Linked DNA regions of Homo sapiens: region 1 is linked to region 2. Evidence: fine-mapped expression QTL. Tissue or cell type: whole blood. Region 2 holds a variant in brackets; the other region holds the start of a gene. All regions are shown on one strand. Distances are from middle to middle.

What was found. PIP is the estimated chance that this variant, and not a neighbour inherited with it, causes the effect.
Region 1: it holds the start of IL12RB1, and the variant in region 2 is fine-mapped to the expression of IL12RB1 in whole blood (TOPMed, PIP above 0.99). The same link has a PIP of 0.9 or more in T cells and blood mononuclear cells.

Annotation. Positions count from the first base shown.
Region 1 is chr19:18,084,986-18,088,985 of GRCh38, reverse strand. It overlaps IL12RB1 (interleukin 12 receptor subunit beta 1), which reads left to right and starts at 2,052. Exons shown (of 17, transcript NM_005535.3): 1 at 2,052-2,226. The coding sequence starts at 2,163. RefSeq lists enhancers at 1,721-1,780, 1,791-2,140.
Region 2 is chr19:18,056,912-18,061,127 of GRCh38, reverse strand. It overlaps IL12RB1 (interleukin 12 receptor subunit beta 1), which reads left to right. Exons shown (of 17, transcript NM_005535.3): 15 at 1-6; 16 at 1,043-1,234; 17 at 1,515-2,133. The coding sequence ends at 1,520. Among named protein-coding and RNA genes, the nearest start is that of IL12RB1, 28 kb to the left of the region's middle. The variant T/A (reference allele first, on the strand shown) is at 1,941.

The DNA.
Region 1 (4,000 bases), 28 kb before region 2:
GATCTCAGCTCACTGCAACCTCTACCTCCCAGGTTCAAGTAATTCTCTCTGCCTCAGCCTCCCGAATAGCTGGAATTACAGGCACATGTCACCAGGCCTGGCAAATTTTTGTATTTTTAGTAGAGACAGGGTTTCGCCTTGTTGGCCAGGCTGGTCTCAAACTCCTGACCTCAGGTGATCCGCCCACCTCGGCCTCCCAAAGTGTTGGAATTACAGATGTGAACCACTGCACCCAGCCCAGCATTATGTTTTTGAGGGTTCATCCACATGGTAGCTTGGATCAGAGCTTCTCCACTGACATTTAGAGGCTTTGCCGACAGTGGGGAGGGAGGGGCAGGAAACAAAATACTCAGAGGCTAAGAAATGGAACATGGGGGAAAGACTAAGTTGCATCTCTTAAATTTTTTTTTTTTTTTTTTTAAGAGACAGGATCTTGCTCTGTTACCCAGACTGGAGTGCAGTGGCACAATCACGATTCACTGCAGCCTCAACCTCCTGGGTTCAAGCCATTCTCCCACCTCAGCCTCCTGAGTAGCTGAGAATACAGATGTGTGCCACCACGACTGGCTAACTTTTAATTTATATATATATATATATTTTGAGATGGAGTGTCACTCTGTTGCCCAGGCTGGAGTGCAGTGGCGCGATCTCGGCTCACTGCAACCTCCACCTCCTGGGTTCAAGCGATTCTCCTGCCTCAGCCTCCTCAGTAGCTGGGATTACAGGTGCCTGCCACCACACCCGGTTAATTTTTGTATTTTCAGTAGAGACAGGGTTTCACCATTTTGGTCAGGCTGGTCTCAAACTCCTGACCTCGTGATCCACCTGCCTTGGCCTCCCAAAGTACTGGGATTACAGGCGTGAGCCACCGCGCCTGGCCTAATTCTTTATTTTTTATAGAGATGGGGTCTTGCTATGTTGTTTAGGTAGACCCAAACTCCTGGGGTCAAGTGATCCTCCCACCTCGACCTCTCAAAGTGCTGGGATTAGAGGGGTGAGCCCAGGTGCACAAGGCTGGAGCTTGGCATGTGGGGAGGTGGGCATTGTGGAGGGCCAGCATGCTGCAAGCTCTTTGTAACAATTTGTTGGAAGGATGAAATTAGGCCATCCAAGAACACTGCCCTCCTTCAGCTCTTGAGTCTCAGATTCAGAAGCTGGCGAGATGGCCCGGTGCGGTGGCTCACGCCTGTGATCCCAGAATTTTGGTAGGCCAAGGCGGACGGATCATTTGAACCCGGGAGTTTGAGACCAGCCTGGGCAACATGGCAAAACCCCCTCTCTTAAAAAAAAAAAAATGCAAAAATTAGCTGGGCGTGGTGGTGCATGCCTGTAGTCCCAGTTCCTGGGGAGGCTGAGGTAGGAGGATGGCCTGAGCCTGGGGAGGTTGATGTTGCAGTGAGCCGTGATTGCACCACTGCACTACAGCTGGGCCACAGATCAAGACCCTATCTCAAAAGAAGAAAAAAAGAATTTGGCAGCCAGGCACGGTAGCTCACGCCTGTCATCCCAGCACTTTGGGAGGCTGAGGTGGGTGGATCACTTAGGGTTAGGAGTTCGAGACCAGCCTGGCCAGCATGGTGAAACCCTGTCTCTACTAAAAATACAAAAATTAGCTCGATGTTGTGGCAGTTGCCTGTAATTCCAGCTACTCGGGAGGCTGAGGCAGGAGAATTGCTTGAACCCGGGAGGCAGAAGTTGCAGTGAGTGGAGATCATGCCACCACACTCCAGCCCGGGCGACAGAGCAGGGCTCCATCTCAAAAAAAAAAAAAAAAATTGGCTAGAGAGGGCCAGAGACCTGGCCAAGTGCATGGAACCACAGGTGGCCCATGGGCCCATGGGGCTGGCATCTGGGTGTTCAGTTCAGGTCTGGGGCCAGCAGGGCAGAACCCCCTAGAACCCTGACTTGCTCCAAAGTCAGACTTGCTCCAGAGTCTGTGGCCGCCACCATCACCACCACCACGGAGCTGACTTCCTGGGTTTCTCTTTCACTTTGACTTGCCTTAGGGATGGGCTGTGACACTTTACTTTTTTTCTTTTTTCTTTTTTTTCAGTCTTTTCTCCTTGCTCAGCTTCAATGTGTTCCGGAGTGGGGACGGGGTGGCTGAACCTCGCAGGTGGCAGAGAGGCTCCCCTGGGGCTGTGGGGCTCTACGTGGATCCGATGGAGCCGCTGGTGACCTGGGTGGTCCCCCTCCTCTTCCTCTTCCTGCTGTCCAGGCAGGGCGGTGAGTCCCCTGACCCTGGCATGGCGGCTCCTCTTGCTGGGTGGAGGCACGTGTATGTGTGGAGAGCTGTGGGCCTGCTGTGTGGGTTGGTTTCATCTCTCTGTGCCTCAGTCTTTCCTGCTGTCAAATGGGAGATGGGCAGTCATGGCTTCTGGGATCGAACTTAGACATCTTTCCTCTGGTCTAGATTTTCTCTTCTGTGAAATGCACTAAATTTTTTCCACCTCCCGGAGTTCAATGAGAAAAAAAACTAAGGAAGGAATAAAAAGCAAGTATGTATCTAATAGGTATACATAGTATAGTATCTTATGTATGTAGTTTACAATAGATAGACATACATAATATAATGTATACAGTCATTTCCATATTTACGGGGCAATGGTTCCAGGACCCTCTGCAGATACCAAAATCCAAAGATGCTCAAGTTCCTGATATAAAATGGTAAAGTATTTGCATATAACCTATGCACATCCTTCCGTATACTTTACTTATTTATTTATTTATTTATTTATTTATTTATTTATTTATTTATTTACTGAGGTAGGGTCTCACTCTGTGTCCCAGGCTGGAGTGCAGTGGCCTAATCATAACTCATTGCAGCCTTGACCACCTGGGCTCAAGTGATCCTCCTGCCTTAGCCCCTTGAGTAGCTGGGACTGCAGGTGCACACTACCATGCCTGGTTAATTTTTTTGGTGTATACTTTTTACAGAGACAGCGTCTCGCTGTGTTGCCCAGGCTGGTCTCGAACTCCTGGGCTCAAATGATCCACTCACCTTGGCCTCCCAAAGTGCTCAGATTACAGGCATGAGCCACCATGCCCAGCCTTCCCATATACTTTTAATAATCTCAGGCCCTGCACGGTGACTCACTCCTGAAAATCCAGCACTATGGGAGGCCAAGATGGGTGGATCACTTGAGGTCAGGAGTTCGAGACCAGCCTGGCTAACATGGTGAAACCCCATCTCTACTAAAAATGCAAAAATTAGCCAGGCTTGATGATGGGCACCTGTACTCCCAGCTACTTAGGAGCTGAGGTGGGAGGATCGCTTGAACCCAGGAGGCAGAGGTTGCAGTGAGCCGAGATTGCAGCACTGCATTCCAGCCTGTGTGGCAGAGCAAGACTCTATCTCAATAATAATAATAATAAATAAACTTTCCTTCTCTGTACACTGGGGATCAGCGGGGTGCTGACTTTTTCAATGGCTCTTGAGATGCACTGAGTGCCTGTAGAATGCCCACAGCAGTGCTGGCCACACCTCAAGGTCCCAGCGCCTTCAGGGGCCAGGCATGGCTGGAGACCAGCAGCAGGGAGGGGGCGAGAGGCAGCCCACGAGGTATCCTGGAGATAGTGGCAGTGAGTGGTCAGTCCAGGGAAAGGGAAGGAGGATGGGCTTTAGGCTCTCAGGGGTGGGTGGGTGGGTGGGGGTTCTGTGTCATCACAGAGAGAGATGGAAGGATGGAGAGCCTTGTGTGTTAAGCATCTTTCCCCCCTCAAGGTTGGACACTTGGGGCTGTTTCCTGGGGTGCCGCCTTCTCCCCCAAGGCTTCCAATCTGCCTGCAGGGCTCAGGACAGGTCCTTCTTGTGGGAGTGAGGGCGCCGGGGTCTTCCTGACCCATCCATGGTGGCATCCCCCTCCTTCTCTCACCCAGTTCCACACCTAGCAGACTGTGGCAATCCCAAAGGGCACGGGGATCCCAGTGGCTGAGGGAGGTCGCTGCCTCCTGGAGAAATGTTATTAATAATTGCCCTGACTGCTAGTGGGCCAAGTGT
Region 2 (4,216 bases):
AAGGAGGTAAGGATGCCTTTTCTAATTCCAAGTCTTTTTATTGGGTGCACATGCTGGACAAGGGTTACGCATTAGCTCATTTTATTCTCTCCCAATTCATCAAGGTAAGGACTCCAAAACCAGTGCTCCATACCCCTTCCCATTTTAAAGACAGGCAGGCAGAGGTCCATTTCCTGGCACTAGAAACAGAATTCAAAGTGGCTTTATTATAAAGGAAACCTGATGGAAAAAATCCCAAGGGAATGGGCTTCAGATATGCCTGAATCCAGCGATTGGGGTCTATCTCGGAGCTGCCCGTTCAGGGTTCTTCCGCAGGCAGGCTGAGCCTTCTCTGATTGGAAGCAGGGTGTCCATTTTCCCCATTAACTGGGGCAAAAGTCTCAGGGCCATCACTGATTGGTCCAGCTTGGGTCACATGCCCTTCCCTGAGCCTATGGCTAGAACCAGAGGGGTAGGGAAGGGTCTGATGGGTGGGCTGGCCAGGGTCACATGACCATTGCTAGAGCTGAGGTGGGGTCACTGCACTGTCAACCACACCATCTGTGAAAAGAGGGAGGGAAATTTCCCAAAGACAGATGGGAGTGCTCTTCCTAAGAGGGGCTGAATGGGAGTCAGTGCGGCAGACTCCATCCTCAAATCGGTCTCAGGATATATGGAGTCTCGCTCTGTCACCCAGCCTGGAGTGCAGTGGCGCCATCTCGGCTCACTGCAACCTCTGATTCCCGGGTTCAAACGATTCTCCTGCTTCAGCCTCCCAAGTAGCTGGGATTACAGGCGTGCGCAACCAAGCTCAGCTAATTTTTGTATTTTTAGTAGAGATGGGGTTTGGCCATGTTCTCCAGGCTGGTCTCAAACTGCTGACCTCAAGTGATCCACCCGCCTCAGCCTCCCAAAGTGCTGGGATGACAGGTGTGAGCCACTGCACCCGTCCAGGTCTCAGGATGTTAGAGAATTTAACCAGCAGTGACCTGGTCCGTTCCATCCTGCTGTGGATGGGAAGTAGAGCTCTGCTCACAGCTGTGGCCCTACCCTCCCTCTGCAGACTTGGCAGTGGATCAACCCAGTGGACTTCCAGGAAGAGGCATCCCTGCAGGAGGCCCTGGTGGTAGAGATGTCCTGGGACAAAGGCGAGAGGACTGAGCCTCTCGAGAAGACAGAGCTACCTGAGGGTGCCCCTGAGCTGGCCCTGGATACAGAGTTGTCCTTGGAGGATGGAGACAGGTGCAAGGCCAAGGTCCTGGGGCCCAGTGGGCCAGACGGTCAGGGGTGCAACCCTGCCCGGGGGGTGGGGGGGCTAGACATCCATCGCTCCTGGGATATCAGGGCCTGGAGGCCTGAGGGAGAAACGAAAACATCCACTTTGTCTTACAGACACGAAGAGCGACTATCTCAATCACAACGGCTGGTTATTAAGCACTTATGGCATACCCAGCCCATTCCATCCACTCACATGATTCCCTACCAAATCCCTACAACCACCCCCTGAAAGGAACCATGACTGTTGTACTTTACAGATGTGATCGTTGAGGCTCAGAGAGGGTGAGTGACTCGCCCGAGGCTACGTAGCACACACAGGAGTCACATTTGGACCCAAATAACCCAGAGCTCCTCCAGGCTCCAGTGCACCTGCCTCCTCTCTGCCCCGTGCCTGTTGCCACCCATCCTGCGGGGGAACCCTAGATGCTGCCATGAAATGGAAGCTGCTGCACCCTGCTGGGCCTGGCATCCGTGGGGCAGGAGCAGACCCTGCCATTTACCTGTTCTGGCGTAGAATGGACTGGGAATGGGGGCAAGGGGGGCTCAGATGGATCCCTGGACCCTGGGCTGGGCATCCACCCCCAGGAGCACTGGATGGGGAGTCTGGACTCAAGGGCTCCCTGCAGCATTGCGGGGTCTTGTAGCTTGGAGGATCCAGGCATATAGGGAAGGGGGCTGTAAAC[T/A]TTGTGGGAAAAATGACGGTCCTCCCATCCCACCCCCCACCCCACCCTCACCCCCCTATAAAATGGGGGTGGTGATAATGACCTTACACAGCTGTTCAAAATCATCGTAAATGAGCCTCCTCTTGGGTATTTTTTTCCTGTTTGAAGCTTGAATGTCCTGCTCAAAATCTCAAAACACGAGCCTTGGAATTCATTCATTCATTCATTCATTCATTCCACATATATTTATTAATCTCTTCCTCTAGGTCTCCTCCAGGAGCACCTAATCCGGGGGAGACAGAGCCGGATGAGAGCTTGGAACCCTACTAAGTTAGGACTGAGCAGGGGAAGGGACGGCCTAGGGGGAGTGGAGCAGCCGGGCACTCCGGTAACAGGAACCGTGGTTTGCCCCCACGCTCCTTCCTCCTCACGCCCACCAACTCGCAGCAGGACCCTTGCCCCCCTTACACACCCTGAATCCTCCCTCTTTCTGCCCACACTGCCCCACCTCCCTCGCGTTCTGCAGCCGCCTCCCCCTGATCCCCACTGCGGTCTGAGCCGAGGTGTGGGGGGGGGCTCCTGAAATCCCACCCCAGCCCTGGCGATTAGCGGGTAGTCCAGATTCTCCCCATGGCCACCAGGTGGCAACAGCGGCGCGCGTTTCCCCGGCCGGGCCCGCCCTGCCTCCTCCCACCGCGTTTGCTAAACAGACTTTTCCGGTTTCAGACAGAGGAGGGGAGTTAAAAAGCCCAGAACTACTGAATTTTGTGGCAAAAAAAGGATGAGACCTCTCGGGGAGAGACCCCTGGCAGCCAATAGGGCCAGGAGGCAAGAGGCCCAGGCCCCGCCCCTTTGGTCTGGGGGCCTCCCTTTCCCCATCGATGCATCTAGATAGGGAAACAGAGGCCTGGATCTCGGTGCCCCAGCCACACGGTGGCTGGTCAGAGTTCTGCAAATGCCCCCCGCCCCGCTCCGGATCTGCCACATCCCAGCTTCTGCTCAAGCCGTTCCCTCCACCAGGCATGCCCTCCCTTGAGCGTTTATCCTCCTTTCTTTTTTCTGAGACGGAGTTTGGCTCTTGTTGCTGGAGTGCAATGGCGCGATCTTGGCTCACGGCAACCTCCCGGGTTCAAGCGATTCTCCTGCCTCAGCCTCCCAAGTAGCTGGGATTACAGGCGCCCGCCACCCTGACCAGCTAAAATGTGTTTGTATTTTTAGTAGAAACAGGGTTTCACCATGTTGGCCAGGCTCGTCTTGAACTCCAGACCTCAAGTGATCCACCCGCCTCGGCCTCCCAAACTGCTGGGATTGCAGGTGTGAGCCCTGGAGGCCCCTGGAGTTGGCTGCAAACCCACCCCTATGCACAGTCCCTTGGGTGCGAGAAGTAGGAGACAGGCAATGTTTACTGGCAGCAGCTGGGACTTTTGCCAGAGTGCATGGGGAAGATGCACACCCTGCTTCCACTAGCGGGAGACTGAGCTGGACAGAGGGAAGCCTGGAGCTTGGAGCCTCTTTCCTTCCTACCGTGGGGATGCCTGTCTGAGAGAGGAGCCTGCAGGGAGGACAGCAGCACCGAGATGAAGCATTAGTTCCTGGATCCAGCCATACCTGAAACCCAATATTTTCCATCTGGTTCCTGTTTTTAAAAAATATTTTAGGCCGGGCATGGTGGCTCACGCCTGTAATCCCAGCACTTTGGGAGGCAGAGGCGGGCTGATCACCTGAGGTCAGGAGTTTGAGACAAGCCCGGCCAACATGGTGAAACCCCGTCTCTACTAAAAATACAAAAATTAGCTGGGCGTGGTGGCAAGCGCCTATAATCCCAGCTACTTGGTAGGCTGAGGCGGGAGAATCGCTTGAACCTGGAAGGGGGTGGTTGCAGTGAGCCGAGATTGTGCCACTACACTCCAGCCTGGGCGACAGAGCGAGACTCCGTCTCAAAAAATAAATAAATAAATAAATAAATAAATAAATATTTTTTTTTATTTTTTGTTTCTTTTTTGAGACAGGGTCTCACTCTGTTGCCCAGGCTGGAGTGCAGTAGCACCATCTTGGCTCACTGCAACCTCCACTTCCTAGGATCGAGTGATCCTCCAGCCTCAGCCTCAGGCTCAAGCCTTGTTGCCAAGGTTTTGCCATGTTGCCCAGGCTGGTCTCGAACTGCTGAGCTCAAATGATCCACCTGACTTGGCCTCCCAAAGTGCTGGGATTACAGGCATGAGCCACTGCACCCGGCCTCAGTTCCCTGTTTGATGAAGCCACTTTGAGTCCTTCTTCTGTCCCTAGAAAATGACCAA